2 separate regions of the Homo sapiens genome follow, and region 2 is linked to region 1. The links come from fine-mapping of genetic effects on gene expression. A gene starts in region 1. The other region holds a variant in brackets. All regions are shown on one strand. Distances are from middle to middle.

Evidence for each region.
Region 2: its variant is fine-mapped to the expression of PIP4P1 in subcutaneous fat (FUSION, PIP 0.91).

Annotation. Positions count from the first base shown.
Region 1 is chr14:20,455,984-20,468,975 of GRCh38, reverse strand. PIP4P1 (phosphatidylinositol-4,5-bisphosphate 4-phosphatase 1) reads left to right here and starts at 7,542. Exons shown (of 7, transcript NM_144568.4): 1 at 7,542-7,792; 2 at 8,131-8,321; 3 at 8,678-8,784; 4 at 9,243-9,348; 5 at 9,536-9,588; 6 at 9,680-9,770; 7 at 10,274-11,295. The coding sequence starts at 7,651. The coding sequence ends at 10,417. APEX1 (apurinic/apyrimidinic endodeoxyribonuclease 1) reads right to left here. Exons shown (of 5, transcript NM_001641.4): 3 at 12,875-12,992; 4 at 12,116-12,308; 5 at 11,209-11,985. The coding sequence ends at 11,468. RefSeq lists enhancers at 6,878-6,957, 6,290-7,255, 7,258-7,327, 7,256-8,222 and silencers at 7,448-7,857, 7,918-8,087, 11,592-11,886.
Region 2 is chr14:20,033,372-20,049,320 of GRCh38, reverse strand. It overlaps OR4K13 (olfactory receptor family 4 subfamily K member 13), which reads left to right and starts at 13,283. Exons shown (of 2, transcript NM_001004714.2): 1 at 13,283-13,383; 2 at 14,340-15,949. The coding sequence starts at 14,563. The coding sequence ends at 15,477. It also overlaps the pseudogene OR4U1P. The variant C/A (reference allele first, on the strand shown) is at 9,511.

The sequences.
Region 1 (12,992 bases):
CTGGACAAGGGAAGCTGGGTCGCCCCCGGCAACAGTGCTAACTTGGAGGATACAGGGTTTAGGAGAGCACATCCAGGCCCAGACCGGGAGAAGAAAAAGTTCTCAGGCAAGAATTCCGGGGTCCTAGATGCCGACAGAAAGGATAAGGATGGATTTGGTGGGTAGGGACACAGATAATCCCTTGATCTGCGCAATATTGATCCAAGCAATTCAGGTAACTAGAGGACTCCTCCCACGAAGAAAATTCTGTTATCGGAATACACGGGTACCAGAATATAACATAAATAGCGTGTCTTTGGTAGAATACAACTATTACTTCTGCCCACATTTACAATTTAATTTTTACATTTAATTTACATTTTTACATTAAATTTACATTTAATTTTTAATTTAAAAAATTAAAAAAAAATTTATATATAAAGGCCAGGCGCGGTGGCTCACGCCGGTAATCCCAGCACTTTGGGAGGCCGAGGTGGGTGGATCACCTGAGGTCAGGTGTCGGAGACCAGCCTGGCCAACAAGGCAAAACCCCATCTGTACTAAAAATACAAAAAATTAGCTGGGCGTGGTGGCAGGCGCCTGTAATCCCAGCTACTTGGGAGGCTGAGGCAGGGAGAATGGCTTGAACCCGGGAGGTGGAGGTTGCAGTGACCTGAGATCACACCATTGCACTCCAGCCTGGGCAACAGAGTGAGTAGCTGGTTCCTGAGAACTTACTAGCACTTTGAAAATAACAATGCACACAAATTGAAAAAAAAATTTCGTTCTTAAATAACCACAAACAGTTACTTACGGGATATGTACATCTGTTTGGCACTACTCAACTTCTCACATGCAGGAATCCAATGCTGCCACCCTCATTTTCTGTTCCATGCTGATTTTTACACAGTACTTTTTTTTTTTACTTAATACTTAATTTTTATCAGAGGGACCTTCTAAAACCATCTTTTGTAAAGATATGTTGTCTTTATATATATATATATTTTTGAGACAGGGTTTCACTCTGTAACCCAGGCTGGAGTACAGTAGCACGATCTTGCCTCACTGCAATCTCTGCTGCCTGGGTTTGAGCCATTCTTTTGCCTCAGCCTCCCGAGTAGCTGGGATTACAGGTGCCTGCCACCATGCCTGGCTAATTTTTGTATTTTTAGTAGAGACGGGGTTTTGCCATATTGGCCAAGCTGGCCTTGAACTCCTGACTTCAACTGATCTGCCCACCTCGGCCTCTCAAAGTGCTGAGAGTATAGGCATGAGCTACCACACCTGGCCAGATATATTGTCATCAAAAGGAATGTAGCACAATCTAATGTTCCAACTGTGAATCACCTCAAGTTAATAGGTCACACAGTGTTTAAGAAATATAAAATATTGCTGTGTTTCCTCTGAAAATTAAAAATATTCCACAATACCCTTGTGAGCTTGTACTTTGGCACAGTTTGGGAACCATGGCCCCAGTCACTCCATGCCACCTCATTCCTGAATCTATGTAGTGTAAATGAATGGGCTCTAATAAAACTACCTGTGTATGAATGCCATCTTCACCCCTTATTTACTCGTGTGATTCTAGGCAAGTAAAATTCTTATTATGCTTCAATTTTTTCATCTGTAAAATAGCAATAATCTTAGTATTTTTGCAAGGATTATACAGAATACCTTTTACATGTTTAGGTAAATGCCTGGATATATAATAAGCACACATTAAATGCTGGCTATTATGATTAATCTCCATTGTCTCTTTCTCTTTTGTTCTTTCTAGACTCACCTAACCATAAATTGAATCAAAATAAAAACTAGAGGTATATCCAGCCTATCAATACCAATGAATCCCACACTGTTCAAAACAGAAGGCACTAGCCATGTGTGGCTATTTAAAAGTAATAAAATTAATTAAGATGAAATATAATAAAAATAATTCAGTTACCTAATCATACTAATTACATTGTAACTTCTCGATAGTCACATGTGGTTAGTGGCTACCATATTGCATAGCATAATTACGTTTTTATGCTAGAGCACAGCACTGTTCTTATCTTTTCTAGTCACTGCCACCTTGTATCCACATAAAAGAAACTGGAACTGTGCTTTATTATTTACTTTTAGGGTAAAAGAGTTCCTGTAGCATTCCTATAGACAGGAACCAGACGATCATCAATCTTAGTGTGATTAGAGTTCATTAATGCCTTATTACCTTTTCTTCTATCTTCTCATCACTTCTATCTTCAGAGGGACTCCTTGTCCAGGAACATACTTAGTAACACACTTACCCTCCACCCGCAAGATCAAGGAAACTAAAAAAAAGTGGCAGGAATAGGTTCTAAGTCACTCAGTATTGCCTTGTGGAACGTATTTTATTCCTGCCCTCTCAACTGAGATCTCTTATTCTCTCTAGATCACAAGCTAAATATGCGGTTTTAAAAATATCTATCCCTGGCCAGGCACAGTGCCTCAGACCTGTAATCCCAGCACTTTGGGAAGCCAAGACAGGAGGATTACTTGAGCCCAGGAGTTTGAGACCAGCCTGAGCAACATGGTGAAGTCTCATCTCTACAAAAAATACAAAAATTAGCCAGGTGTGGTGGCATCTGTGGTCCCAGCTACTAGGGAGGCTGAGGCAGGAGAATCACCTGAGCCCAGGAAGTCAAGGCTGCAGTGAGCTGTGATGGAGCCACTGCACTCCAGTCTGAGTGACAGAGTGAGACCCTATCTCAAAAAATAAAATAAAATATCTACTCCCCTTATCACCATAATCTTTGGTCTTCCATTTTCTCCAATTACTGAAATTAAAACATTTTAGGGTTTTTCCCTGTTTTTTTTTTGTTGTTGTTTGTTTGTTTGTTTTTAGATAGGGTCTCGCTCTGCCACCCAGGCTGGAGTGTAGTGGCTCAATCTCAGCTCACTGCAGCCTCAATCTCCTAGGCTCAAGCGATCCTCTTTCCTCTGCCTCCCAAGTAGCTAGGACTACAGGCACGCACCACCGCATTCGCCTATTTTTTATTTTTATTTTTTTAGAGATGGGGTATCTTCATGTTGCCCAGGCTGGTCTCAAACTCCTGGGCTCAAGTGATCCTCCCACCTCAGCCTCCCAAAGTACTGGGATTATGGGCATGAACCAGCACATCCAGCCCTTCTCTTTCTGTTATAGGGATCACTTTTATTTCTCTTTTCTAAGAGTGAGACTTCCATCTGTGCCTCACTCAGTGGCAGGAAGAACAGAGCAGAGATAAAGGACTGGCCTACCACCCTCTATTCCAAAGACCTTGGCTCCTAGAAAGGGAAGCCAGGAATTCCCTAAAGGAAAGAGCAAAGAACTGAGGCCCAGGAAGAGCAAGGAGCACAAGGGAGCAAAGTCCCAATGTAATTAACGTAAATTAATTCTTTAAAACCAGGTCACACCCTACCCAATCCCACCCAACCCCCGGCAAACTACCCCTCGTCTTAGTTAACTCACTCTGCACATTACCAGAAACTTTCTGTGCCTTTGAAATGCAGTAAGGGATTGTGTTGTTTTCACACAGGTGGTAAATTACCACTTCAGGAAAGAGGAAAAAAGAAATAGGGCATGTGGAATATGTGAAAAAAAAGAAATCAGATTGGGACACTTTGGGTCATAGAAGCCAAGCAGATGTTTTCCACCCCATCCTCTGGCCATGTACACACTGTACTAGTTATCACTTTGTTGGAAATCTAAAGAAAAAAATGCTTTGAAATCTATTCTATTATATAACACAATGAAGTGTGTTCCCCCAAATTCTTATATTGACGCTCTAATCCTCATTGTGACTATATTTGGAGATAAGTCCTTTAAAAAGGTAATTAAGTTTAAATGAGGTCATAATGGTGGGGCCACAATCCAATAAGACTGTTGTTCTCATAAGAAGAAGAGAGGCCAGGCAGGGTGGTGCTCACCTGTAATCCCAGCATTTGGACACCAAAGCAAGAGGATCACTTGAGCCCAGGAGTTAGAGACCAATGACCAGCCTGGGCAACATAGTGAGACCCTGTCTCTACAAAAAATTAAAATATTAGCTAGGCATGGTGGCATGCACCTGTCATCCCAGCTACTTGGGAGACTGAGGTGGCAGGACTGCTTGTGCCCAGGAGTTCAAGGCCGCCACAGACTATGACTGCACCACTGCACTCCTGCCTGGGTGACAGAGTGAGACCCTGTCTCTAAAAGCACGGAAAAAGAAGAGAAAGAGGAAGAGAAAGCAAAAATGTGTGTAGAGAAAAGGCCATTTATGCCACAGTGAGAAGGTGGCCATCTGTAAGCTAAGGAGAGAAGCCTCAGGAGAAAGCAAACCTGCCAATATCTTGATCTTGGGCTTCCAGACTCCAGAGCTGTGAGAAAATAAATGTTTGTCGTTTATGCTATCTATAGTGTTTTTTATGTCCTAGCAAATTAATACACCTCAATAGCCTAACTGTTCTCAATCTAAGTGAGAAGATCCCACCCCATAGGTAAAAATCAGGCAATACCTGAGACACTCAATATTTACCAGAGATAATATTAAAATGGCTTATCTGTAAAATACAGGTACCAACCAATCAGAACCAATGGCGCCATAAACAACCAATGCCAGCCACCCTGTAGTGCCCCAGCTGAATATCCTCCCTGCTTGCAACTGCAGCTAACAATATTGTTCAGTACCCAGCAAATTTATCCCAAGATGGGGCTTAAGTTACTTCATTAATTAATTAGAGAGCCATCTATCAAGCAGCTTCTATGTTCCAGGCATTTAGCATAAAAGGGGGCTCATCCCAAGCACCTTCTCTCTGCCACTTCTGTGCTTCTGTCCCTTTCAATCTACCTATCAAATTATTTGAATGTAAAATATTAGATCATAAGTCAGAAGACGGGGATTTAGAGCTCCATTTCAATCTGTCACTTAGCTTAAATGACTCCAGTTTACACAGCCTCAGTTTCCACATCTGTAAAATAAAGATATAGTCTTGCCTTCCCTGTCCACATCACAGTGGGTTCTGAAATAAAATGAATATAACTATGAATGTGCTTTATTGGCCGGGCACAGTGGCTCACGCCTGTAATCCCAGCACTTTGGGAGGCCGAGGCGGGTGAATCACGAGTTCAAGTGATTGAGACCATCCTGGCCAACATGGTGAAACCCCATCTCTACTAAAAATACAAAAATTAGCTGGGTGTGGTGGCACACACTTGTAATCCCAACTACTCGGGAGGCTGAGGCAGGAGAATCGCTTGATCCCGGGAGGTGGGCAGAGATCACACCACTGCACTCCAGCCTGGCGACAGAGTGAGACTCTGTCTCAAAAAAAAAAATGCTTTATTAACTGTGAGCAAGTTCCAAATATTATGATTACTTTTTGCATTTTTCTGCCTATTGATCTACTCAACAACACAGAGCTCAGATCCTAGTTATCCATGCACAATACTCATTTTTCTTTATGTTTTAGAAGTTTTCTCTGGCTGCTCTAGCTAGAAGTGATCTCTTCTTTTCTTGAACTTGAATTACATTGTTTAATTCTTTTATTATGAAGCATGTGCTGTATCATGAATTTCTAGTATTGATATTTTTCCATGTAATAAAATACTAGTGCTGATTTTCTTTTTTTTTTTTTTTTTTTTGAGACACGATCTTGCTCTGTTGCCCAGGTTTAGATCATGGCTCATTGTAACCTTGAACTCCTGGGCTCAAGCAATCCTCCACCTCAGCCTCCCAAAACACCGGGATTACAGGCATGAGCCACCACTCCTGACCTGATATGTTATACTGTCAATGTTTACACTATTCTGTCTCCCTACCCAGAGTGTAAGCTTTTTTAAGGAGTGTCTTTCACAAAGTGTAGATATTTAAAAAATATTTTTAGGACAGTTTTTGGAATATATGTGTAACTAGGGCGCAAATAATGGATCCTACTCCAACCCCAGACAATGCTTGAGCATCTGTGTGCCACAAACAGCAGAAAAAGCAGCAGACTGGCCTCCCTCTATGGAGCTACAACCTCTTCCCTATTTTGTATCTGGAGCTTCCTTAGTTCTTTAAGTGTCTGTTAGGGGCTCTTATCTAACTGGTCGAAGGTTACTAGCTTCCAAGTAGAAGTTGGCCTGAGAAAACCCTGTCTAAAAAAATCAGGACCTAGGTGAAGTCTCCAGCCCCTGTAGCAGCCAAGTGCTGGGACATCTGCAGTTCCTTTGTTATTACATATTTGGGGCTGGCTGTACTTTCTTTGATGCACTTCCTTTCTTAGTGGAGAGTCTGCTAGCCAAACTGATAATGGACCTCCTCGGGGTTTATTGTTTTTATCAATTCCTTGTTGCTTCCCATATTTAAAGCAGTCCCAGTTTGGGCTATGACTTGGGAAAAAATCCAGGTGTGGTTCAGGCGCCCATAAAGACCACACGAGACTTCAGGTAGGGGAGGAGGCACTGCCCCTTTGCTGGAAGCAAAGTTGAGACAGGCCTAAAGACTGTCCCATCTGTCAAATAAGGTGACGAAAATAACCTTGTATTTGATTAATCCAATCTACAAACTTGTGCGTATGTTAAAGGTTGGTGGTCATAAAACTGAGTAAAGGCACGGTGGCTTGTCCCTGTAGTCCCAGCTACTGGGAAGGCTTAGGCAGGAGATCAAACTCAGGAGTTTGAGTCCAGCATAGGCAAGACCCCATCTCTATTGAATTTTTTTTTTTTTTTTTTTAGTAAAACGATGAAATCTTCTAGTAGTGGAGACACTAATGAAAAGATAATTTAACAATTTGATCAGCAATGGGGAAAGACGGGGCTCTGTAAGGACAGCTTCCAGGAAAACCCAGTCTTGTGTCCTGTCCTGAAAGTGACTCTAGCGACAAAGGCTGGAGTGATAATCTTAACTTTTTAATCCATTTCCTTCTGGTACCTCATTACTCTGACTTTTTAAAGGTACTTCTTTGAGTAGAACAGCTAACTTTGTCTACTGTTCCCCACCGTCCATTTTCTCCCCGCTCAGAAGATCCCAAGCTTCCGCACTCCTTTATTGCACCCGCCCAGCCTCCTTTAAAATGCATAAGCCACGCCCCCCATGTTCTGGCGCTAAGTTCGGGCCAATGCAGTTGCGCCGCTAGGATCACAGGACGAAAGAAGTAAAGTCACCAGCCAATAGGAAACCAGCTACAACGCAAAGCCGGAGAAAAGTGTTTTAGTGGTGTCTTTGAACCAATGAGGAGCAGAGCAACAGGGACCGTGCAGCTTCCAGAAACACGTGACCAGTTGAGCAGACGCAGCCTAGCCCTACCTCCTGGTCTGGAGGTAGCGCGATGGGCGTCGCTCCCAATAGCTTGCAGAACCTCTAGTCACGTGCAGGTTTTGCAAGCCCAGCAGCATCTGGCAGGTCATGTGACAGTTGACGTTTGTGCGTCGCTCCCCAATGGAAAAGGAGAGCTGCCTTCACAGGACCAGGAATTGGTTTATCTACGCGAATAATAGCATGACCCGGGCGGGGATAGCCTATCACGTGCTGCTAGACGGAACGGGGCGGGGCAGGCCACTGGTTGCGGAGTGAGCTGGGCGCGCGGCGCGCAGGCGCCCTGGGGACCCGGTAGCGGCGGTGGCGGTGGCGGCGGTGGCGGTGGCTGCGGCGACGGCAGAGGCGAAGGGAGCCGGATCGCCGACCTGAGCGGGAGGCGGCGGTGGCGGCCATGGCGGCAGATGGAGAGCGTTCCCCGCTGCTGTCTGAGCCCATCGACGGTGGCGCGGGCGGCAACGGTTTAGTGGGGCCCGGCGGGAGTGGGGCTGGGCCCGGGGGAGGCCTGACCCCCTCCGCACCACCGTACGGAGCCGGTAAACATGCCCCGCCCCAGGGTAAGCCGGGGCGGGTCCGAGGTGCTCCCCGGGGTACTCTGAAAGCCGGGGAGGGGGCGGGACCGAGGGCGGAGGCGGGTCCCAGTCGCCAGGTGCGGGACTGCTGCACCTGTGACTGGGCGAGGCTTCCTTCCCTCCGTAATCGCGACCACAGCCTAGGGACGGAAGGGGGTTCTGAGCAACCTGATAGAAGTGCCAATTATGAGAAGCCCTCCGAGCTTGGTCAGAGGGTTGAAGATCAGAAGGACTTCCCTACCACCGTGGAGCATCAGTGGGGGTGTAAGTGATCCCAGCCCTTCTATTTGCTTCCTCTCCAGCATTTCCCCCGTTTCCCGAGGGGCATCCAGCCGTGTTGCCTGGGGAGGACCCACCCCCCTATTCACCCTTAACTAGCCCGGACAGTGGGAGTGCCCCTATGATCACCTGCCGAGTCTGCCAATCTCTCATCAACGTGGAAGGCAAGATGCATCAGCATGTAGTCAAATGTGGTGTCTGCAATGAAGCCACCGTGAGTTACACATATCTATGAAATGGGCCCTGTTTCCTGGATCCTCTTTCTGATGTCTTGGTTCTAGACCCTGACCTTCCGGCTATTAGCCAAGTGCTTTTGATGATACCCAGGTTTCAGTTCCAGGTGTCTCACACAGCCATTTCCCCAGAAGCCACTCACCAAAGCTAATGTTCACTTTCTCTCACTTTTACACCTAGCCTAGTTCCTATTTGCAAATCTCATGATATAGTCTTTCTTTTATTTCTCCTTCCTGGTTAGCACCTTATTTTTCTGATCTCATAAAGTGTTTTTGGAGGGAAGTGGAGGGGATTGGGATTAGAGGTTTGCTTGCTGATGACCCTATTATTCTCTAGCCAATCAAGAATGCACCCCCAGGGAAAAAATATGTTCGATGCCCCTGTAACTGTCTCCTTATCTGCAAAGTGACATCCCAACGGATTGCATGCCCTCGGCCCTACTGGTAAGAGGCATAAGGTGGGGAAGGGCCTAAGTGGGGAACTGGAAAGTCAAAAAAGGATGAGCGTATACAGAGAATGTAAAGGTGAGAGAGCCTAGTGTTTATTTAGGAGAAAAGGCTTTGAAGCATGTGCCTCAGGAATGTTATAGCTGTCTTTCTCGTTTCTCAATAAAAATATTGAGATGAAATGATGTCGTTTCGGAGAATAGAGAGCCTTGGGGACTGGGTGTGTTATCCTGAGGTCGGAGGGGAATTGGGGACCTGAAGTTTAAACAGTGCTCTTTCTTTCTCAAGGATTCTTGAGGGTATACAGTTGGGGGACAGAGTATCTTAAGTACAGAGAAGTCGAGTGACTTAATAGACAGGGAGTGGGGGATGTGGAACAGGGACTGTGAAGATTTTTAGGATTAAAAATTTTTCAAACACAAGTTTGAAAATACAAGTCTTTTTCTTTTGTATAGCAAAAGAATCATCAACCTGGGGCCTGTGCATCCCGGACCTCTGAGTCCAGAACCCCAACCCATGGGTGTCAGGGTTATCTGTGGACATTGCAAGAATACTTTTCTGGTGAGGAAGGGGTATTGGGAAGGGGAGGGGAAAGGAGACTAAGAGTCATTTCGAGTATATTTCTTAGAGTAATGGTAATGACCCCTGAAAGGTCTGTCCTATGGGAACATGTTCTGCATCCCCACCCCAAGGTTCTCATTGAGGGAGACCCTGCTTGTGCTATTATTTTTGTTTTCTTTCTCCATAGTGGACAGAGTTCACAGACCGCACTTTGGCACGTTGTCCTCACTGCAGGAAAGTGTAAGTGATTAGGGATTGAGCTGGTAATTGATGTATGGAGTAAAAACTACAAGGCCATAGAAAGCATCCATTTCTATTTGCCTCCCCACAGGTCATCTATTGGGCGCAGATACCCACGTAAGAGATGTATCTGCTGCTTCTTGCTTGGCTTGCTTTTGGCAGTCACTGCCACTGGCCTTGCCGTGAGTACCCTTGCCCCAACCTCTTTCATTCTGCAGCCTCATCTCCATAGGCTAAGATTTGGGAAACTGCTACCCTAAAAAAAAGTGGAAGAAACTTGGGGGACTAGTTTGTTTTGTTTTAAGATATGGATGAGCTAAAGTGCAAAGTGGCTGATCAAACAGACTTTATTACTACTACAAGAGTGAAAAACAGCCTTCCTTTCTCTGTAGGATGAGGATAGGACAGTGAAATTCTTAATTTAAGAGTTGCTATTTTTCAAACCTGGCTCAGTTGTCAGATATTAAGAAAAACTGAGATACAGTGTGGGATGGGATGAGTATGTTACGCCTAAGGGAAGGAAGCTGATCAGCTCTGCCTTTAAGAAGGTCCCTGAGGGTGGCTACATGTGGATAAGGAACAAGGACTGAAGCGTGAGTTATTACTGTTCTTAGAACTAATAGGAGGTAGTGGAGACCAACATTAACCCCATCTTTCTTTTCTTCTCCCTCCTTATCTTCATCAGTTTGGCACATGGAAGCATGCACGGCGATATGGAGGCATCTATGCAGCCTGGGCATTTGTCATCCTGTTGGCTGTGCTGTGTTTGGGCCGGGCTCTTTATTGGGCCTGTATGAAGGTCAGCCACCCTGTCCAGAACTTCTCCTGAGCCTGATGACCCACAGACTGTGCCTGGCCCCTCCCTGGTGGGGACAGTGACACTACGAAGGGAGCTGGGGTAGTTAAAGGCTCCCGGGGCTTCTAGAAGGAAGCCAAGCAGCTGCCTTCCTTTTCCCTGGGGAGAGGTAGGAAGGAACCAGGCCCTCACTTAGGTTTGGAGGGGCAGATAAGAGCACTGCTGACCATCTGCTTTCCTCCAAGGGTTGCTGTGTCTAGGGTGAAGTAGGCAAAACGTTGCCCTTAAAACTGGGCCCTGAAGACGGTTCCAGCCTTGTCCTTCCTGTGTGCTCCCTGAGAGCCATTCCTGTCCCTTACACATTCCAGGGCAGGGTGGGGGTGGGTAGCCCTGGGGGTTCCCCTCCCTCTTGTGCACCATTAGGACTTTGCTGCTGCTATTGCACTTCACCAGAGGTTGGCTCTGGCCTCAGTACCCTCAGTCTCCTCTCCCCACATTGTGTCCTGTGGGGGTGGGGTCAGCCGCTGCTCTGTACAGAACCACAGGAACTGATGTGTATATAACTATTTAATGTGGGATATGTTCCCCTATTCCTGTATTTCCCTTAATTCCTCCTCCCGACCTTTTTTACCCCCCCAGTTGCAGTATTTAACTGGGCTGGGTAGGGTTGCTCAGTCTTTGGGGGAGGTTAGGGACTTATCCTGTGCTTGTAAATAAATAAGGTCATGACTCTACGCTTTTTCAGTTGTTAACTTGTGTGCATGAAAATATGAGGAAGAGAATGTGTAGCCCCACGAAGGGGTAAGACACGAAGACAGCAAGGCTGAAACTATGGCTCTTTATTTTCATGTGGATAATTCAAACAAAGTCATTAGTAGTCTTTGTTCAATTTTTTTTTAAAAAACAAAAAACCCTCAAATAAAAAATCTTGGGCTTAAAAGAACTCTATCACAGGAGCCTGGTTGGAGGATTCCTAGTTTTATACATGAGAAATAGAATGCAGATTTCTCTGAAGAGTGTTTAAAGAAGGAATGGTAGTTGAGGGGGCTTATTTCCCAGGCTCAAAGTGATTTAGGGGTGGTGTCACAGTGCTAGGTATAGGGTGATAGGACAGTGATCACTGCCGAGGGCCTTGGAACGGATCTTGCTGTCACACAATGCAGGTAACAGAGAGTGGGACAACAAAAAGTAATCAAGGCGCCAACCAACATTCTTGGATCGAGCATTCATCATATAAGTCCAAAAGGTGTAGGCATAGGGTGTGTTGGGGTAGAGGTGCCTAAAGCTGTCAGCCAGTGGCACAGCCTGCAGTAATTCCCCGAAGCCTTGGCGCTCTTGTGGCGTGAAGCCAGCATTCTTTTTGTTCCCCTTGGGGTTGCGAAGGTCAATTTCTTCATGTGCCACATTGAGGTCTCCACACAGCACAAGGGGCTTTCGGGAAGCCAGGCCCTTCAGGAACTTGCGAAAGGCTTCATCCCAGCGCTGCCGGTACTCCAGTCGTACCAGACCTCGGCCTGCATTAGGTACATATGCTGTTACCAGCACAAACGAGTCAAATTCAGCCACAATCACCCGGCCTTCCTGATCATGCTCCTCATCGCCTATAGAAATGAAACAGAATTAGCATAAAAAACTATAAGAAAAGGGAAAGCAATCAAGAGGTGGGGCAGAGATAGAGAATTAGCAATTGGTTTTGAAGAGTTCAGGCATTAGGCATCAATAGGGTCTCACCTATGCCGTAAGAAACTTTGAGTGGGCACTGGCGGGAAAGCAGGCCCACGCCACTGTACCCTTCCTTGTCCGAAGGAGCTGACCAGTATTGATGAGAGAGTCCAGGCAGCTCCTGAAGTTCAGCTGGTAGTTTGTTCTCTGAACATTTGGTCTCTTGAAGGCACAGTATATCTGGGGCTTCTTCCTTTACCCACTGTAAGTGAAAAGAAAGGTGGAAAACGTATTATCAATTCAGCAGAACATTTATTGAATAATCTATATGCTAAGTCATAGATACGCACGGGTTAAACAGTCTCTTGGCCTAAGGAGTTCGAGTCAAGCAGCACAATATTCAAACAATTCTAAGCTAGATAAATGAAAACAAATATAGAGAGGTAAGAAAGTCTTACATGCTATGCCAAGGAGATGTGTTTTTTCTATAGGCAGTGGATAGCAAGCTAAGATTTTTAAGCTATGGTTAATGGAATGGAGGACATGCTTCATATGGAATGCAATGCAGGAAGATAAAATGGAGGAAGTATAGTGAAGAGGTTTTTGCAACATTCTGGGAAGAGGAGAGAACACTAAAAAAGAAAATGGCAATGGAAGTGAAGGAACAGACATTTAGGAAATACAACTGGCAAGACTGGGGAAGCCCCACAGAAAACTACGGGCAGGAGAAAAATAAAACAGCCTGAAGGCTAAACGGAGAAAAGGGGTGACTAAACCCTAAGACCATTCAATACTAAAAAATGTCTCTTTCCCTCAAATTCCACTCACATCTAATCCTTTCTTCTTAATCCAGGCTCGAAGCCCATCCACATTCCAAGAGCAGATCTTGAGTGTGGCAGGTTTGCCACTGGGTGAGGTTTTCTGATCTGGGGGGTCCTCATACAGG
Region 2 (15,949 bases), 420 kb after region 1:
GACAGTGCATATGGAGTAGAATGTGGAGTTCCAAAATATTGTCTGCAGATATTTGCATCAGAATCAGATGCTTTTGTAATAAAAATTGGAGACTTTTGGAGTGACAGAGTAAGGAGCCTGGTGGAGTCTTTCCCTAACAAAACAAACATTTGATAGAGAAACTTCTAAAAGACAATAATTTAAAGCCTCAGGAAATTGTCCTAGGGCATACAGAAAATGGAGAAATACTCTTAAGAGAGTCTTCCAAATCTCTGTAAGAACAGCAAGTCTGGGGTTTCACGCCGCTACTGCTACCTCCTCTCCTATTTCTCTCCCAGTCCTGTAATATAGAAGCCCTCCTCTGGATGCTGTACTCCAAGCAGGTGTGGGAAAAAAGGCAGGACTCCATCTTCCCTCACTTTTAGGTGGAGGGCTATGGTTTCAGGTTTCACCCTGGGAGCGTTAGGACTTAAGTATTGCAGAAGCTTTGTTCCTAGTAGACTCTGAGGAGAGGATGAGGCTATCTTTCCCTACCTAGCATCTACTTGTAGAGTGAGCAGGAACAGGCTGAGAATACTAGCGCCCTCTTATCACCTCTGTCTTTTAGCTTGCTTGTACAGCAGTCGTTTGTGCCAGAAAAGGCAAGCCAAGATGACCAGAGACTCGACTCTTCTCAGTGCCCACTCAGAGAGCAGGCATATCATCTTGGGAGAAGTGGGCTGCTGTCCCTGCTCTTGTGCACTGGCACAGAAGTTCTGCCCAGGAAGAAAGGCATGCCATAAGGATGAAAACTCTGCAGCTCCACCTGAGGGGCCTACCTTTATTTGGAACAGAGCTTCAAGAGTTCCATGTCTATAGGCATTGTCAGAAACCACAGAGATGCTGATGGAGAACAATTAAGAAGTTGCTGATAGCACCATGTTTCTGGTATCAACATGTCACATGGCAGAGTCAACATGTTTATCAAAGAGGATCAGGCAAGAGACAGATAAGAGCCCTACTGGAATCATAGATAGTCCTGGGAATAGGAGACGCTGTGGATATGTACTGGCTGCATCCACTTAGAAGAAAATCAGAGGAAGGTATGGGGCAGAAATGAAAACATTCTTAAAGCCACACACAATTCCATTGACAAAGGGTTGAAGGCTTACTGGCACAAGAAGCTTAAGCAAAACCTCTAAGCAAACACTAGCTAAATAACAAACTACACTGAACCAAGAGCAACTTCTTAGGAAGCTATGCTTACAAATACAATCACACAGATTCCTGGCAGTCTGGAGGACTGAGTGAATGTCCACATGTGTGTAATTCTCAGGAGTGATTGGAGAGGGAACATTCTAGTCCCTAAATAAATGTGGGGCAAAAATGTAAGTTTCTTGAGTTTGATAGAAGCCTCCTAGCCACACCTACGTCTAGTGATAAAGGATAAAAATCTAATTGGTCAGGAAGGATACTTAAGCAAAATCTTTGTTCCATAAGTAGCTTGTGCTGTCCTTGACATAATCCACAAGTACCAGGCTAGGAGAATTTTAAAAAGGGATACATTTGGAGTAGAGACATCAGACACTGCACACTGCAGGGGAAATCGACTTCACAGGTTTAAGCCAAGTCATTAAATAAACAACTAAACAAACAATAACAAGAAAATCATCAGTGGATGGGAGTGGTGGTCAGTAATCAGAGTTACTACAATAAAATGTCCAATGTTCAAGTGAAAAATGATGAGAAATGCAAAGATACACAAAAGTGTGACATTTACATGAAAAAAGCCAATAGAAACTGCTTTTATGGGAACCAAGATATTGCACCTAGTAGAAAGCAACTTCAAAACAGTTATTATAAATATATTTTGAGAAGTAAAGAAAGCCATGTCTAAAGAATTAAAGGAATATATGAAGTCCATGTCTTAGCAAATAAAGAATATCAATAAAGATATAGAAATTATAAAAAAAAGGACCAAATGGAAATTCAGAAGTTGAAATGTATAATAACTCAAATGAAGAAATCAATAAAGGAACTCATCAGTAGATTTGAGCTGGCACCAGTTAACTTGGAAACATATCTGTAGCAATTATGCGATCTCAACAGAGAGGGATAAAAATAAGGAAAAATAAATAGAGCCTCAGAGAATGTGGAACACTAGTAAGAGCACCTACATATGTTATGAAATGTCAACTTTGGCTTCTAGATTGGATGTTAGCCTGATAATGATCATATTACTTCAAATAGGGAGTGCAGAAAAAATAACAGGCTTTGGAAGTTAGGTAATTTAATTTTTTGCATTTGGGCTTGAGATGCCTTCAAGATAGCTGGGGAAGGGTATAGTAGGAAGTTGAAAATAAAAATGTGTGAGTAGCTCAGAAATGAGGAACAAAAAAGGTTAGATGATATTATCAACATTTAGGTTACTGCAGAAAGCAACTACCACTCTAAAGGCTAGATGAGAAAAAAAAGGAAGCAATATTATACAGAGCCCACAATTCCTGTTGGCACAGTGGCATCATTGCTGCTGTTGGAACCTCTATCCTGTATTAAAAATTAAGAGCTCATATACTTAAGGAAGCTTCAAGAGCCTTCAATATTGCTGATGCTGCTGGGACCCACCAAGACTTCTACAGTCCACAGTTGCCTGCTACAGTTACTGAGAAAGACAGAAGAGAAATCTAAGGCTTCTCCATTTTTTCATTTTTTTTCACCTTTCAGTATCATATGAATGTCTTCTACTGGCAGAAACTCACAGGAATAAGTTTACAAGAGAGTCTGGGAAATGCAGTTTTCAGGCTTGTAACTCCCTACTGTAGAGAGAAGACTATAGAGCTGACATGGGGTTGAAGGTCAACAGACAAACATTCAGAATGCTCCCCTTTGGTTACTCAGTATCAATACACATCATTCTACATTTATTTAAACTTCCAAAGAATGACAATAGCTTCAGTCTAAAGATGCATCTATCCTGCAAACAAATTAAGACACTCTGGCCTCCTTTCTCTAACTGAAAACCAAAAATCCTCATTGGTTACTATATCCATTTCTGTACGGTGTTGCCATCTTTTCGAATTCATTCATAATCCCACATTAATATTCTGTAACCTAGAGACTAAATTGTAAATTAGTCTCCTTGATAAGAAAAAATAAAAAGGAAAAAAGGAACCAGGAATTTGTGAACAAATGCAATTTATATAAAAAATTTGTAGCTTCTAAAATCATCATTTTACTAACAAATTGTGAGACAATTAATGTTCACGGCTACCTTCTTTTACTGCCTATTTTATTCCTCTTTGTATGCATTCAGATCTCCAGTGATGGTGATTCTTTACGTGGTGGAATGAATAAAAATTTTATTTTTCCTAGGTGATGTAATGTTCACTTATTTTTACTACTTGATATGCAAATAATATGAGGTACAACAGCAAATCACTTGGGTTTCAGACATGGGCTTCCCTACCCAACTGTACAACAGCAATTCTAGTATGCATTGATAATTGGAGTGAGTCAACTTGGCTGGTTTAATAAGCTCTTCTCTTTTTAATTAGAGGTGAAAGAATACTTAAATGTCTGGGATGGGTGTGGTAGGTCATGCCTGTAATCCCAGCACTTTGGGATGCCAAGGCAAGAGGATTGCTTTGAGCTCAGGAGTTCAGGACCAGCCTGGGCAGCATGGTGAAACCCCATCTCTACAAGAAATACAAAAATTAGCTGGGCATTGGTGGCTCGTGCCTGTAGTCTCAGCTACTTGGGAGGCTGAAGTTGGAGAATCACTTGAACCTGGGAGGCAGAGGCTGGAGTGAGCTGATATAGGGGCACCGCACTCTAGCCTGGGTGACAGAGCGAGACCCTGTCTCAAAACAAATGAGCAAACACACACAAACAGAAAAAAAAAAAACTGGAGGGGAAGAAGATTCAAATGTCTTGGTATTAGTGACAGTATTTACTTTCAGGTTAATAAAATACCACATATTTTCTTTTTGCAAAGATTTATTTATTGAGGACTATGATCTGTAAAGAAGTGTTCAGAAAACAAAAAAATTATGTTATTAAAATGTAGATAGGAAAGCATTTTTAGTTAGAAAAACATAGATTTTATAGTTAGGTATAGGATATGATACTGGATCTAGTACTTATATTTCTGTGGCAATTTCATTACGTTTTATAATGCTCAGTTTTGTTACCTATTGATAATATGTAAATAATATTCTCTATTTTCCTTGTTGTGAAATAGGAGAAAATTTATGGAAAGTGCCTCATACATGAATAGCACTCAATAAATTACATTTAAAAATATAATTTAATCAATAGGCAACATAAAATTACAACATAAGCAAATAACATATTGGAATAGTTTGTACTTGGAGGAAAAATCAGAATATTATATTACATGTACACTTACATGGGGATCGATTATTATATCCCAAAATATGGCTTACGTTTGGTACAAAAATCCTCCACTTCAGTGTCTTTGGATCATGATGATGACAACAATAATGATGATGCTTTTAGTGATTATAATATTTTAGTTATCAAGTTGATCTAGAACTCACAAAGTTAATCTTCATTTTTCTTAATGCTTTCTTCATGTCGTTATTCCTGAATGTGTAGATGATTGGATTTAAAAGGGGAGCAAAAATAGTTTAAAACACAGACATCAATGGAGACAGTGCTGAATGGTCTTTCACAGGTAAAGATGCAAGCTCCAAAGAACAGTACCACCACCATAATGTGGGCTGAAAGCGTGGACAGAGTTTTGGAAGACCCCCTGGAGGAATGATGTCAAATAATAATCAGGACGGTGCTATAGGAGATTAACAGAAACATGAAACACAGCAAAGAAAGTAGTCCACTGTCTGCAATGACTCATAGCTCCAAGATGTAAGTGTCTGTACAGGCAAGTTTTATCACAAGGCAGATCACACACACACAAAAATATCCACAACACTGAGACCACAGAATGGCAAAGTCACTGTGAGAACAATTTGGCTCATGGTGTGCATGAAATCCATAGTCCAGGAGCGAGGAGCAAGTCCGATGCAATGGACTTGTAATGGAGGGGTTTGCATATGGCAAATTATCTATCGATTGCCATGGCTAAGAGTAAAACCATCTCACTTCCACTTAAAAAGTGAAGGAAAAATCTCTATGTCATGCAGCCTTCATAGGAGATGGTCCTATATTCACTAATTACATTATCGATTTTCTTAGGAGTAGCAAAGGAGGCCAGGGGCATATCAGTAGATGACAGGTTGGCCAGTAGGAAGTACATGGGAGAATGCAATTGAGGATCCAGTTTCACTACAAAGATAATGATTAGGTTACTTAATTATGGATATGTAGAGAATGGAAAAATAAGATAAAGAAAATCTGTAGCTCATGAGATTTTTGAATCCCAACAAAATAAATTCAGGCACCATGGACTGATTTTGTTTTTCCATTTGTTTGTCTGTTGGCATATATGACCTAAAACAAAATAAAAATTAAATTCTGAGAGATATGAGAAATGAAATACATATGCACTTAACACTGCTTCTAAAATTCACTGAAATGTGCAAAAAGAATCAAAAGTATTGAAGAAAAATGAATCCAATATTAAAAAAAGAGTAGACATAATTTCTCAGCAAAAATTATGAATAACTGCCAATATGTTTGAATAAATTTGAAGCCATCAATATGTAACTCATATCTACATCAATCTTGAGAAAGGTGAATAACCCAGTTGGTAAGGAGGTATGGAAGTTTCCTGCCACCTCTTCAGAATTGGAGGAACAGATTTATTGGTCCTCCATAGGCAAAGAAGAGGGCCTGTCCCTCTTCAAATCTCTTTCTACACTCAAAAATCATGAGGAACATGCAAGTGAAAGAGGAGGCAAATGGTTTTTTAATTGAGAAGGATCAAGAAAAATGAAATTGATAAGATGGAATATGGAACATGAACATACTAGGAGTCACTTCTGTAGTTGCTGCTGAAAGTAAGATAAGCAGAGATGATAAACAGAATGAATCCTTGATACATGTGAATCTATGGTTGTGCAACTTGAGGTGGCCTCAATTTTCCTGAGATTGAAAGAAGGGTCCAGTATTTGAGTTTCCTCCCATGGAGCACGTGAATTAGTAGATTGGGGAGTATAGTGCTCAGAGATAGCATAATGAACATTTATTGCTGGCTTCCCTCTGCCTCACTTACTTTCTCTGACAAGCAGCTTAATGTCCAAACAGATCTCTTAAACTATCCATACCATTTATAACGATATTATAAAGTGCAGAACTCTGGTTTAAAAAAAAAGTGATTGACAGGGAACACCTCCATGTTGTTCTAGATAGGTGAAGCAGACCCATGTGAAACGATACCCATTGAAATATAAATAATGGTAGCCAAAAATTTTGAAAGAAGCTAGCTAAGACATAATAATACAGTATTTTTTAAATGAGAGCTAAAATAACCAGAAAAAGATGAAATAGTTTATATCTGACTGGAAACCTTATTTTTATTTATTTATTTGAGACAGAGTCTCGCTGTCTCACCCAGGCTGAAGTACAGTGGTGTGATCATAGCTCACCACAGCCTTGGAATCCTCGGCTCAAGCAATCCTCCCACCTCAGCCTCCAGAGTAGCTGGGACTAAGGTGCACGCCACCACTTTGGCTAATTTTTTTTTTTTATATCAAGACAAGATGTCTCATTTTGTTTCCAAGGCTTGTTTTGAACTTCCGGCTTCAAGACAGCCTCCCAGCTTGGCCTCTGAAAGTGTTGGGATTATAGGTGTCAGCCACAGTGCCCTGCCAAAGAGACCTTACTAATAGAAAAGACACAAAGTAGATTTAAATATGTTTTTTTTAATTTTATTATTATTATACTTTAAGTTTTAGGGTACACGTGCACAATGTGCAGGTTAGTTACATATGTACATATGTGCCATGCTGGTGTGCTGCACCCACTAACTCGTCATTTAGCATTAGGTATATCTCCTAATGCTATCCCTCCCCCCTTCCCCCACCCCACAACAGTCCCCGGAGTGTGATGTTCCCCTTCCTGTGTCCATATGTTCTCATTGTTCAATTACCGCCTATGAGTGAGAACATGCGGTGTTTGGTTTTTTGTCCTTGTGATAGTTTACTGAGAGTGATGATTTCCAATTTCATCCATGTCCCTACAAAGGACATGAACTCATCATTTTTATGGCTGCATAGTATTCCATGGTGTATATGTGCCACATTTTCTTAATCCAGTCTATCATTGTTGGACATTTGGGTTGGTTCAAAGTCTTTGCTATTCTGAATAGTGCCACAATAAACATACCTGTGCATGTGGCTTTATAGCAGCATGATTTATAGTCCTTTGGGTATATACCCAGTAATGAGATGGCTGGGTCAAATGGTATTTCTAGTTCTAGATCCCTGAGGAATCAGTAGCTGATTCGATCAACTGGAAGAAAGGGTGTCAGTGATTGAAGATCAAATGAATGAAATGAAGCGAGAAGACAAGTTTAGAGAAAAAAGAATAGAAAGAAACAAACAAAGCCTCCAAGAAATATGGGACTATGTAAAAAGACCAAATCTACGTCTGATTGGTGTACCTGAAAGTGATGGGGAGAATGGAACCAAGTTGAAAACACTCTGCAGGATATTGTCCAAGAGAACTTCCCAAATCTAGCAAGGCAGGCCAACGTTCAGATTCAGGAAATACAGAGAACGCCACAAAGATACTCCTCGAGAAGAGCAACTCCAAGACACATAATTGTCAGATTCATCAAAGTTGAAATGAAGGAAAAAATGTTAAGGGCAGCCAGAGAGAAAGGTTGGGTTACCCACAAAGGGAAGCCCATCAGACTAACAGCAGATCTCTCGGCAGAAACTCTACAAGCCAGAAGAGAGTGGGGGCCAATATTCAACATTCTTAAAGAAAAGAATTTTCAATCCAGAATTTCATATCTAGCCAAACTAAGCTTCATAAGTGAAGGAGAAATAAAATACTTTATAGACAAGCGAATGCTGAGAGATTTTTTTCACCACCAGGCCTGCCCTAAAAGAGCTCCTGAAGGAAGCACTAAACATGGAAAGGAAAAACTGGTACCAGCTGCTGCAAAATCATGCCAAAATGTAAAGACCATTGAGACTAGGAAGAAACTGCATCAACTAATGAGCAAAATAACCAGCTAACATCATAATGACAGGATCAAATTCACACATAACAATATTAACTTTAAATGTAAATGGACTAAATGCTCCAATTAAAAGACACAGACTGGCAAATTGGATAAAGAGTCAAGACCCATCAGTGTGCTGTATTCAGGAAACCCATCTCACGTGCAGAGACACACATAGGCTCAAAATAAAAGGATGGAGGAAGATCTACCAAGCAAATGGAAAACAAAAAAAGGCAGGGGTTGCAATCCTAGTCTCTGATAAAACAGACTTTAAACCAACACAGATCAAAAGAGACAAAGAAGGCCATTACATAATGGTAAAGGGATCAATTCAACAAGAAGAGGTAACTATCCTAAATATATATGCACCCAATACAGGAACCCCCAGATTCATAAAGCAAGTCCTTAGTGACATACAAAGAGACTTAGACTCTAACACATTAATAATGGGAGACTTTAACACCCCACAGTCAACATTAGACAGATCAACGAGACAGAAAGTTAACAAGGATACCCAGGAATTGAACTCAGCTCTGCACCAAGCAGACCTAATAGACATCTACAGAACTCTCCACACCAAATCAACAGAATATACATTTCTTTCAGCACCACACCACACCTATTCCAAAATTGACCACATACTTGGAAGTAAAGCTCTCCTCAGCAAATGTAAAAGAACAGAAATTATCACAAACTATCTCTCAGACCACAGTGCAATCAAACTAGAACTCAGGATTAAGAAACTCACTCAAAACCACTCAACTACATGGAAACTGAACAACCTGCTCCTGAATGACTACTGGGTATATAACGAAATGAATGCAGAAATAAAGATGTTCTTTGAAACCAATGAGAACAAAGACACAACATACCAGAATCTCTGGGATGCATTCAAAGCAGTGTGTAGATGGAAATTTATAGCACTAAATGCCCACAAGAGAAAGCAGGAAAAATCCAAAATTGACACCCTAACATCACAATTAAAAGAACTAGAAAAGCAAGAGCAAACACATTCAAAAGCTAGCAGAAGGCAAGAAATAACTAAAATCAGAGCAGAACTGAAGGGAATAGAGACACAAAAAACCCTTCAAAAAATTAATGAATCCAGGAGCTGGTTTTTTGAAAGGATCAACAAAATTGATAGACTGCTAGCAAGACTAATACAGAAAAAAGAGAGAAGAATCAAATAGACGCAATAAAAAATGATAAAGGGGATATCACCACGGATCCCACAGAAATACAAACTACCATCAGAGAATCCTACAAACACCTCTACGCAAATAAGCTAGAAAATCCAGAAGAAATGGATAAATTCCTCGACACATACACTCTCCCAAGACTAAACCAGGAAGAAGTTGAATCTCTGCATAGACCAATAACAGGAGCTGAAATTGTGG[C/A]AATAATCAATAGCTTACCAACCAAAAAGAGTCCAGGACCAGATGGATTCACACCCAAATTCTACCAGAGGTACAAGGGCGAACTGGTACCATTCCTTCTGAAACTATTCCAATCAATAGAAAAAGAAGGAATCCTCCCTAACTCATTTTATGAGGCCAGCATCATCCTGATACCAAAGCCAGGCAGAGACACAACAAAAAAAGAGAATTTTAGACCAATATCCTTGATGAACATCGATGCAAAAATCCTCAATAAAATACTGGCAAACCGAATCCAGCAGCATATCAAAAAGCTTATCCACCATGATCAAGTGGGCTTCATCCCTGGGATGCAAGGCTGGTTCAATATATGCAAATCAATAAATGTAATCCAGCATATAAACAGAACCAAAGACAAAAACCACATAATTATCTCAATAGATGCAGAAAAGGCCTTTGACAAAATTCAACAACCTTTCATGCTAAAAACTCTCAATAAATTAGGTATTGATGTGACGTATTTCAAAATAATAAGAGCTATCTATGACAAACCCACAGCCAATATCATACTGAATGGGCAAAAACTGGAAGCATTCCCTTTGAAAACTGGCACAAGACAGGGATGCCCTCTCTCACCACTCTTATTCAACATAGTGTTGGAAGTTCTGGCCAGGGCAATTAGGCAGGAGAAGGAAATAGAGGGTATTCAATTAGGAAAAGAGGAAGTCAAATTGTCCCTGTTTGCAGATGACATGATTGTATATCTAGAAAACCCCATTGTCTCAGCCCAAAATCTCCTTAAGCTGATAAGCAACTTCAGCAAAGTCTCAGGATACAAAATCAATGTACAAAACTCACAAGCATTCTCATACACCAACAACAGTCAAACAGAGAGCCAAATCATGAGTGAACTCCCATTTACAATTGCTTCAAAGAGAATAAAATACCTAGGAATCCACCTTACAAGGGACGTGAAGGACCTCTTCAAGGAAAACTACAAACCACTGCTCAGTGAAATAAAAGAGGATATAAAGAAATGGAAGAACATTCCATGCTCATGGGTAGGAAGAATCAATATCATGAAAATGGCCATACTGCCCAAGGTAATGTATAAATTCAATGCCATCCCCATCAAGCTACCAATGACTTTCTTCACAGAATTGGAAAAAACTACTTTAAAGTTCGTATGGAACGAAAAAAGAGCCCGCATCGCCAAGTCAATCCTAAGCCAAAAGAACAAAGTTGGAGGCATCATGCTACCTGACTTCAAACTATACTACAAGGCTACAGTAACCAAAACAGCATGGTACTGGTACCAAAACAGAGATATAGATCAATGGAGCAGAACAGAGCCCTCAGAAATAACGCCGCATATCTACAACTATCTGATCTTTGACAAACCTGAGAAAAACAAGCAATGGGGAAAGGATTCCCTATTTAATAAATGGTGCTGGGAAAACTGGCTAGCCATATGGAGAAAGCTGAAACTGGATCCCTTCCTTACACCTTATACAAAAATTAATTCAAGATGGATTAAAGACTTAAACGTTAGACCTAAAACCATAAAAAACCCTAGAAGAAAACCTAGGCATCACCATTCAGGACATAGGCATGGGTAAGGACTTCATGTCTAAAACACCAAAAGCAATGGCAACAAAAGCCAAAATTGACAAATGGGATCTAATTAAACTAAAGAGCTTCTGCACAGCAAAAGAAACTACCATCAGAGTGAACAGGCAACCCACAGAATGGGAGAAAATTTTCACAACCTACTCATCTGACAAAGGGCTAATATCCAGAATCTACAATGATCTCAAACAAATTTACAAGAAAAAAACAAGAAACCCCATCAAAAAGTGGGCAAAGGACACGAACAGACACTTCTCAAAAGAAGACATTTATGCAGCCAAAAAACACATGAAAAAATGCTCACCATCTCTGGCCATCAGACAAATGCAAATCAAAACCACAATGAGATATCACCTCACACCAGTTAGAATGGCAATCATTAAAAAATCAGGAAACAACAGGTGCTGGAGAGGATCTGGAGAAATAGGAATACTTTTACACTGTTGGTGGGACTGTAAACTAGTTCAACCATTGTGGAAGTCAGTGTGGCGATTCCTCAGGGATCTAGAACTAGAAATACCATTTGACCCAGCCATCCCATTACTGGGTTTATACCCAAAGGACTATAAATCATGCTACTAGAAAGACACATGCACACGTATGTTTATTGCGGCATTATTCACAATAGCAAAGACTTGGAACCAACCCAAATGTCCAACAATGATAGACTGGATTAAGAAAATGTGGCACATATACACCATGGAATACTATGCAGCCATAAAAAATGATGAGTTCATGTCCTTTGTAGGGACATGGATGAAATTGGAAATCATCATTCTCAGTAAATTATCGCAAGAACAAAAAACCAAACACCGCATATTCTCACTCATAGGTGGGAATTGAACAATGAGAACACATGGACACAGGAAGGGGAATGTCACACTCTGGGGACTGTTGTGGGGTGGGGGAAGGGGGGAGGGATAGCATTGGGAGAGATACCTAATGCTAGATGACGAGTTAGTGGGTACAGCACACCAGCAGGGCACTTGTATACATATGTAACTAACCTGCACATTGTGCACATGTACCCTAAATCTTAAAGTATAATAATTAAAAAAAAAAAAAGAAAAAAAAAGAAAATAATATTGGATTTTTAGGGTGGGTGAGGAGTTGATTATGAATATCCAGGAGAAGTTAGGGATTGATAAGGTAGTTATCACAGGTTTATAAAGAAGAGAGTGATATGATGAAAAATAATTTTTATAGGTAATGTTAAATTCATTCTAAGAATAAACTGTATTTGTGGGGAGATTACATTATGCAACATCTACAAAGTGGAATTCTATACACCTATTAAAAAGTTATGTTTCTATATGTTAATATAAACATATTTAAATGTAATAAGTTAAAAACTCAAGAAAAATAGCTATACATATAATATATAATCTGCAGTCTTAATAAAATGATATAAATATAAATACCTGTAACACTAACACACACACACTGTACTGAAGTGTGTATTATTTTTCTGGAAAGTTATCTAAGAAGCTCTTAAAATGTTCAGTCAGTCTTTCTGTTATCTGTGATGTGCTTTTTTCACATTGGCATAAACTACCTTTTTTTTTAAAAGATAATTAAAAGAAAAAAACATATTTTAACCAGCTTTTTAAGAATGGCTGTTCTATTTCTGATTTTAAAATACTTCAACATTCAATTTGACATTTAAAAATAAATATTGTTAAAATTCCTAATGTTGTGGATTTTTCTGTGGATTAAGTCAGCTGACTTAATCTAGATCCTGAATATGCACTACATAGTTTATTCATTCAACAGATATTCACTTAGTGTTTTTGATATGCACTATTCCAGATGTGGAGGATTTATAAACTTCTTTGTATGTATTTGAAAATTGTTCTCTTCTGTTTAAATGCAGCTTCAAAAATTGGGTTTCAAAAAGAAGCATTAGTAGGAATTCTTAAATATTAGTCATAAAACTGAAGAGAGCTATTACCTTTATAGACATATAAATGAATGGCTCTAATTACATATTTGATGAAATTTAATATTTTGCATCAAAGTTTCTCAGAGTGGGAAATTGGCCAACAGATATGTTTACATAGGGAAAAAAATACATCCCTAGTTGGATAAGTGTTCCTATGGGATTATCTCATAGAAACATATAGCACTATGGTCTCTATTTTTTCTGTTTCTGATGATTGGAAGAGTAAATTGCAGATAACTGATGGGGATACAGGAAAAGGAGATAAAAGGCCATTCCTGGGATTCACGTACGACGCCATCACGAAAGTTTTTTTCCCCTGTCTTGTAAGTAATAACAGCACAAAAAGATGACTACAAATACTTTATTTACTGAAGGTGTTTTGTAAGACCTAGATTAATTTAAAACTATTAGCAACGGAGGCAATTTTTTTAAAAGCTGAACCAATAGAACCAGTTTGTAATAAGCATGAGCCGATGACAAATTTTGTCATAAATTTAGATTATACTGAAAGAACTGTATTTCTTTTACCAACATAAATGTTACATCAAGCTAAGTCATTTTGAAACCTATGACAACCATACACAGGCCAACCAGCTAACCACTACATAGCAATAACCAGGTAAATGAATAAATGAATGCAAGCTGAAAGTGAAATTAGTCAATTACATTTGACTGTGGGTTGTTTGTACACATTGTCTAACCATCTAGAGGAGGTATTTGATGTGAATAATATGAAATGTTGAATGAACGAATTATATAAATATATATAAATATATGAAATGTATGTAATATACATGTTTAATATATATATACTATACATATACTTGACACTTCAAAAGTGTGTAGTGACTACTGCTAATACTGATCTGTGAGGGATTCATGCAAGAATGGAGCATGGAGGAAATAAGGTAAGTTTCTCAGGACCTAATTCATATTTCTTTACCAGAGTCCATTTCAAAACATGGTTCTTGAGAATCCTGGATGTATTTTTGATATCCTTTCCACATTAATAAAACTCAATATTATTCTGTGACTATAAAACTCACCAGAATCATTATCTTATTCATAGAGATCTTTATAGCAGAAAGAGGCATTCGATACCATATAGTCCAAATTCTTTTTTTCACTGAGAAGAAAACCCTCAAAAGGAGAGTTACTTGTCCTGTGTCACCCAGTGAGCAGCTTACCCAGGTGTCCTGTAGAGGTCTTCTGATTCTAATTCATGACCTATAGTTTTGTGGTTTCATGTACTATTAATGTTTTTATTTTTGTCTTCCAGAAACTTATATTCTGAATTCTACTGACTATTTGGGATACTTCTCTGGGCCATTAGTAAAATCACTGACTGACAAAATTCCACAAAAGTAAGGGTCCTTGTAAGTTCAAGTGCCTTGACTGAGTACCAAATGTGGACATCAACATGAACATTTCTTTCCAATATGCATCATTTCCCTACCCCTTATTCTCACTTATTTTGATCATTATGGGATAAAGTTGACGATATGGAAAGAGCAAACCATTCAGTGGTATCGGAATTTATTTTGTTGGGACTTTCCAAATCTCAAAATCTTCAGATTTTATTCTTCTTGGGATTCTCTGTGGTCTTCGTGGGGATTGTGTTAGGAAACCTGCTCATCTTGGTGACTGTGACCTTTGATTCGCTCCTTCACACACCAATGTATTTTCTGCTTAGCAACCTCTCCTGCATTGATATGATCCTGGCTTCTTTTGCTACCCCTAAGATGATTGTAGATTTCCTCCGAGAACGTAAGACCATCTCATGGTGGGGATGTTATTCCCAGATGTTCTTTATGCACCTCCTGGGTGGGAGTGAGATGATGTTGCTTGTAGCCATGGCAATAGACAGGTATGTTGCCATATGCAAACCCCTCCATTACATGACCATCATGAGCCCACGGGTGCTCACTGGGCTACTGTTATCCTCCTATGCAGTTGGATTTGTGCACTCATCTAGTCAAATGGCTTTCATGTTGACTTTGCCCTTCTGTGGTCCCAATGTTATAGACAGCTTTTTCTGTGACCTTCCCCTTGTGATTAAACTTGCCTGCAAGGACACCTACATCCTACAGCTCCTGGTCATTGCTGACAGTGGGCTCCTGTCACTGGTCTGCTTCCTCCTCTTGCTTGTCTCCTATGGAGTCATAATATTCTCAGTTAGGTACCGTGCTGCTAGTCGATCCTCTAAGGCTTTCTCCACTCTCTCAGCTCACATCACAGTTGTGACTCTGTTCTTTGCTCCGTGTGTCTTTATCTACGTCTGGCCCTTCAGCAGATACTCGGTAGATAAAATTCTTTCTGTGTTTTACACAATTTTCACACCTCTCTTAAATCCTATTATTTATACATTAAGAAATCAAGAGGTAAAAGCAGCCATTAAAAAAAGACTCTGCATATAAATTTAAAGCATACTTTTTAGATGAGACTTTTGAAGAGACACTCTCTTGTTTGTTTGAACATTTAAGAAACTCGTTTTTAATGTATCAGGTTCGTGCAAAAGTCATTGCGGTTTTTGCCATTAAAGTAAATGACAAAATTAAAGTAATGGCAAAAACCACTATAACTTGTGTACCAGCTAACAGTTCAAGTTCCATATGAGGAAATAGTAGATGTAATTGTTAAAAAGCAAACACCTTTTTGTGATCTTTTATGGTCAAACACATAATATCTACAGTTTGGCTTGTATACATTTAAATCCCACCTTTATCAGTTTCTCTGGTGCAAATTTGAAGAAAATAAATAAGTTCCCTGTGATTTAGTTTTTTCGTCTATACAACCTTGTTTATATGCATCTTTCATTATTATTTTAGCATGCTCTTAAACCTCAGAAAACACATTATTATTGTTAGGTTTTTTGTTGTTGTTATTGGT